Regions from separate parts of the Homo sapiens genome. Here region 2 is linked to region 1. The links come from fine-mapping of genetic effects on gene expression. A gene starts in region 1. The other region holds a variant in brackets. All regions are shown on one strand. Distances are between the middles of the regions.

Evidence for each region.
Region 2: its variant is fine-mapped to the expression of STAP2 in stomach (GTEx, PIP 0.90).

The regions. Positions count from the first base shown.
Region 1 is chr19:4,337,674-4,340,576 of GRCh38, reverse strand. It overlaps STAP2 (signal transducing adaptor family member 2), which reads left to right and starts at 1,750. Exons shown (of 13, transcript NM_001013841.2): 1 at 1,750-1,925. The coding sequence starts at 1,824.
Region 2 is chr19:4,267,305-4,270,207 of GRCh38, reverse strand. YJU2 (YJU2 splicing factor homolog) reads right to left here. Exons shown (of 8, transcript NM_018074.6): 7 at 2,434-2,584; 8 at 1,120-1,624. The coding sequence ends at 1,512. Among named protein-coding and RNA genes, the nearest start is that of SHD, 11 kb to the left of the region's middle. The variant C/G (reference allele first, on the strand shown) is at 1,662.

The sequences.
Region 1 (2,903 bases):
TCAGTATTCAAAATTAATCAATTGTCCACCATATTAAACAGGCTGTGGTAGGCAGAATAATGGTCTCTTAAAGATATCCACGCCCTAATTCCCAGAATCTGTGAATACGTTAGGATACGTGGCAAAGGGATTTGAAGATTAAAGATAGACGCCAGGCACAGTGGCACACACCTGTAACCCCAGCACTTTGGGAGGCCTAGACTGGAGGATCACTTGCACCCAGGAGTTCAAGACTAGCCTGAGGGCCGGGCACGGTGGCTTATGCCTGTAATCCCAGCACTTTGGGAGGTCGAGGCAGGTGGATCACAAGGTCAGGAGATTAAGACCATCCTGGCTAACACAGTGAAACTCCATCTCTACTAAAATAAAAATACAAACAAATTAGCTGGGCATGGTGGCACGTGCCTATAATCCCAGCTACTCGGGAGGCTGAGGCAGGAGAATTGCTTGAACCTGGGAGGCAGAGGTTGCAGTAAGCCGAGATCGCTCCACTGCACTCCAGCCTGGGTGACAGAGTAAGACTCTGTCTCAAAAAAAAAAAAAAAAAAAGACCAGCCTGGGCAACATAGCAAGAACCTGTCTCTAGTAAGTGTAAAAATTAGCTGGGCGTGGTGGCAGGCACCTGTAATCCCAGCTACTTGGGAGGCTGAGCCAGGCGAATGGCATGAACCTGGGAGGCGGAGCTTGCAGTGAGCCGAGATCACGCCACTGCACTCCAGCCTGGGCTACAGAGCGAGAGTCTGTCTCAAAAAAAAGAAAAAAAAAAATTAGCCAGGTGTGGTGGCATGCAACTGTAGTACCACCTACTCTGGAGGCTGAGGCTGGAGGATCACTTGAGCCTGTAAGGTCGAGGCTACAGTGAGTCATGATCGCCCCACTGTACTCCAGCCTAGGCAACATAGTGAGAACTCATCCTTAAAAAAGGAAAATAAATTAGCTGGGTGTGGTGGTGCCCACCTATAGTCCCAGCTCTTCGGGTGGCTGAGGCAGGAGGACCGCTTGAGATTGGGAGGTCAGGGCTGCAGTGAACTATGATCGTGCCACTGCACTCCAGCATCGACAACAGAATGAGACACCGTCTAAAAAAGAAAAATTGCAGATGAAATTAAAGTTGCTAGTCAGCTGACTTTAAAATAGGGAGAGTAGCGTGGATTATCCAGGTGGGCCCAATGTAATCATTAGGGTCCATCAAAGTAAGAGAAAGGGCCAGGTGTGGTGGCTCATGCCTGTAATCTCAGCACTTTGGGAGGCTGAGGCGGGCAGAAAACTTGGGGTCAGGAGTTCGAGACCAGCCTGGGCCAACATGGGGAAACCTCGTCTCTACTACAAATACAAAAATTAGCCAGGCGTGGTGGCGGTCACCTGCAATCCACGCTAGTCAGGAGACTGAGCTTGGACTCAGTCTCTGAACCCGGGAGGCAGCGCAGTCTCTTGAACCCGGGAGGCAGAGGTCGCAGTGAGCCAAGATCATACCACTTTACTCCAGCCTGGGCAACAGAGTGAAACTCTGTCTCAAAATAGGAAAAATAGATAAATAAATAAATAAAGAGACAGACCATGTCTCTGTCTTTGCAGATATAGCGAAGATTATTCTCCCATTCAAGTAGACTTATACATTCTCTCTGTTCTCAGTTCCACACCGGAGAGGCGGGGATTTCCCTAGGATCACTGGACCTGCTGGGATCAGCCTCTGCCCAGCCCTGGCAGGGGAGGGAGTTGACGGGCTGACACAGGAAACTCCCCTGAAACCTGTTTCTCAGCTTCCCGGCCCAGCTGGGGCACCCACTGGAAGGAGAGGCCAGGCGGAAGACCCTGGCTCCGTCATGGCCTCTGCCCTGAGGCCACCCCGTGTCCCCAAGCCTAAGGGTGTCCTGCCTTCACACTACTATGAGAGCTTTCTAGAGAAGAAGGGGCCCTGTGACCGGGTAAGGTGGGGAGGCGGGGGCTGGCCCTGCTGGGCCACCGTGGGGAGCTGCGGCACCTCTCTGAGTCCCTGTCTCCCCACTCGCCAAGGGGGGGCGGGGTGGGTGCTGGATGGGGCAGGACACGTGCTGGGGGACTGGGGTGGGTTCTGGCCATCTGCCTCTCTGTGCGTCTATCTCTGTCTCCGTGTGTCTTTGAATTTGGTTTCTTTTTCTCTTTCTCTCTCCCTGGCCCCGTCTGTCTCTCCCGATGTCTGTCTCAGTCTCCCTCTCTCTTTGTCTCAATCTTTGCTTTTGTCTCTCGTTCACTCTCTTGAATACAAACAAGATCAGGGACTTCCTCCAGGAAATGGGGAGTCCTCTGACTCCCGAGCTTCCTCCCGCTCCCAGCCCAGGAAAAACTCCGTGAACCTCAGCTGCTGGGGCGAAGGCCAGGACAGGTGACATGTGAGGACAGTAAGAGCTAGCGGGGGCCACATTCCACAGGACAGATAGTTGCCATGGACAGTGCGTGCATGTGTGTGTGTGTGTGTGCTTATGTCTCCCTCAGAATAAAGTCCCAGCCCCTCCGTTCCCCGTGAGGCCCTATCTCTCCTTCCCAATGCCGCATATTCATTTTCTTTCTTTCTTTTTGTTAGAGACAGAGTTGCTCTGTCACCCAGGCTAGAGTGCAGGGGCACGATCATGGCTCACTGTAGCCTCAAACTCCTGGGCTCAAGTGAACCTCCCGCCCCAGCCTCCTGAGTAGCTGGGACCACAGGCATGCACTGCCTCTTCTGGCTTTTATTTTATTTATTTATTTTTGAGACTGAGTCTCACTCTGTCACCCAGGCTGCAGTGCAGTGGCACCATCTCGGCTCACTGCAACCTCCACCTCCCAGGTTCAAACGATTAAGCGATTCTCGTGCCTCAGCCTCCCGAGTAGCTGGGATTACAGGTACGCACCACCACACCTAATTTTTGTATTTTTAGTAAAGACAG
Region 2 (2,903 bases), 70 kb after region 1:
GAAGGTTCATATTGTTCACTTTAAAAGATTCCAGGCTGGTGCAGTGTCTCACGCCTGTAATCCCTGCACTTTGGGAGGCTGAGGCAGTCAGATCACCTGAGGTCAGGAGTTCAAGACCAGCCTGGCCAAGATGGTGAGACCCGTCTCTACTAAAAACACAAAAATTAGCTGGGCGTGGTGGCAGGCACCTGTAATCCCAGCTGCTGGGGAGGCTGAGGCAGAGAATTGCTTGAACCTGGGAGGTGGAGGTTGCAGTGAGCCAAGATCACACCACTGCACTCTAGCCTGGGCAACAGAGGGAGACTCTGTCTCAAACAAACAAACAAAAAGATTGTACAGGCAGGGCACAATGGCTCAGGCCTGTAATCTTAGCACTTTGGGAGGCTGAGGCAGGCAGATCACCTGAGGTCAGGAGTTCAAGACCAGCCTGGCCAACATGGTGAAACCCTGTCTCTACTAAAAATACAAAAATTAAGCCAGGCGTGGTGGCGGGCGCCTGTAATCCCAGCTACTCTGGAGGCTGAGGCAGGAGAATCGCTTGAACCCGGGAGGCGGAGGTTGCAGTGAGCCAAGATCGCGCCATCGCACTCCAGCCTGGGGGACAAGAGCGAGACGTCGTCTCCAAAAAAAAAAAAAAAAAAAAAAGGTAAAGAAAGAAAAAAAAAAAGAAGAGAAAACAAAAAGAGCCCAGATGCACACTCAGGCGACAACTAAATATAAATATCTGGGCTCATGCCTGTTACAGTGGCTTATGCCTGTGACCCCAGCACTTTGTGAGGCTGAGGCAGGAGGATCACTTGAGCCCATGAGTTCAAGATCAGCCTGGGCAACATGATGAAACCCAGTCTCTACTAAATATACAAAAAGTTAGCCAGGAATGGTGGCATCCACCTGAGGTCTCAGCGACTCGCGAGGCTGAGGTGGGAGGATCACCTGAGCTCGGAAGTTCAAGGCTGCAGTGAGTCAAGAATACGCTACCGCACTCCAGCCTGGGCAACAGAGTGAGATCCTGTCTCAAGACACAAACAAACCTCTGTGGAATGACCCTCGAATTGTGCTAACAGAGGAGGTCCTGGGACCTCCTCATCAGACTCTGGGAGAGAGAAGGGGCCCAGGCGGTTGGCAGGTTTCCTTTTATTGGTTCTAGACAGTTTGTGGAAGGAAGAGATGAGGCCATCTAGAGGCCGGCAGGCTCGCCCAGTGCCCCAAACACTGCCACCCTGAAGTAGTGTTGGAAGCTGCTCCAGGGATGTTGCAGCCCTAAGCACAGTGACAGGTGGGGGCAGGAGCAGCAGGGGTCCCCGAGGTGTTGAGAGGCTGGTGAGGGCACAGAGAAGGGACCTCCTGGGGCTGAGGCCCCTGGTGGCCCTATGTGTTGGAGCACGCTGGCGCTTGTCTGTCCGGCCTCCAGTCACGCCAAGGCCTCCTGCCCTGACCACCAGCAATGCTGGCCTCAATGTGGCTGAAGCTGGACGTGTGACTTTGACCCCGTGAGGGGGTCCTGGGAGGGCTCAGTTGCTGCCGTTGCTGTCGTCACTGTCCAGGTATGCACCCAGTTGGCTCAGGGAGGACGCGCCAGGCGTCAGGGGTGTAGGGTTGGCCTCCTTCCTGTTCTGCGGGGCTCCTGGTGGGAGAGCGAGAGTTAGCTCATCTCAGCTCCA[C/G]AGCAGACAGGCCAGGGACAAGGCACGGGGCCGGCCACCTCTGCAGGTTTGCAAGGTCCAGAGGTGACAGCATGTGAATGGCCTGGCCTTTCTGGATGGCACCTGATGGGACCCATTGCAGATTTACATCTGCACACCCGGGACTCAACAGCTCCGCTTCTGAACAATGGCCAATGCAAACCTTGCCCAGGCAGGCAACGTGCGCTGCCAAGAATGGAAATGGCGCAAAGTTCACAGTCCAGTCACTGTGGACTTAATCGCCTTAGGAAACATCATACTAAGGCAACTAAAAGACAAAAACAGGCCGGGCGCGGTGGCTCATGCCTGTAATCCCAGCATTTTGGGAGGCCGAGGTGAGTGGATCACCTGAGGTCGGGAGTTCCAGACCAGCCTGACCAACATGGAGAAATCCCACCTCTACTAATAATACAAAAATTTAGCCGGGCGTGGTGCTGTAGTCCCAGCTACTTGGGAGGCTGAGGCAGAGAACTGCTCAAACCAGGGAGGCGGAGGTTGCGGTGAGCCGAGATGGCACCACTGCACTCCAGCCTGGGCAACAGAGCAAGACTCTGTCTCAAAAAAAAAAAAAGAAAAAAGAAAAAAGAAAAAAAGAAGCCGCCTGCCTTCTCTGCTCACTCCACTAATTGGTCCTGTGGGGGTCGCAGGCCGCCCCCACCCACCCCATGAAGTCTCTGTAACTGCAAAGGGAGCTGCTGCCACCTACAGGCCACTATAGAAACCGCGCCCGGCTCTGGGAACTCTGTGACCTTACCTGGGGTGGGGGCCGCCTGAGGCTGCCCGTTGCTGCAGTCCGGGTCGGCCTTTGCCTTCTTCACCACGACCAGCCTCGACAGCGGGGGCCGGCTGCCCAGGCTGCCAACGCTCTGCTCCCAGACCTCCACCTTCCTCTTGGGCTTTGGGGCCTGCAGGTGATGGGGACACATGTGGGGGTCTGGCCCGGATCCAGGGCCCAGTCTGGCCCCTCGCCACAACCCCTGCTCACTGCCCCATGCCCACTCTTCCACTGCTGCACTGACCACATTCCTCCTCTGCTCTAAACTCCTCTATGGCTCCCCACTGCCCTAGGCTTGGCACTCAAGGCCTCTGCCCATTCTCCATCCCACATAGCCTGGTCTGGCACTTCCTGAGTCACACCATGGCTTCTCATCTCCACGCCTTTACCCATGCTATTCCCTTCACCAGGGATGCCCCCTTTTCCATGCACTCGCTTGGTGAACTCCT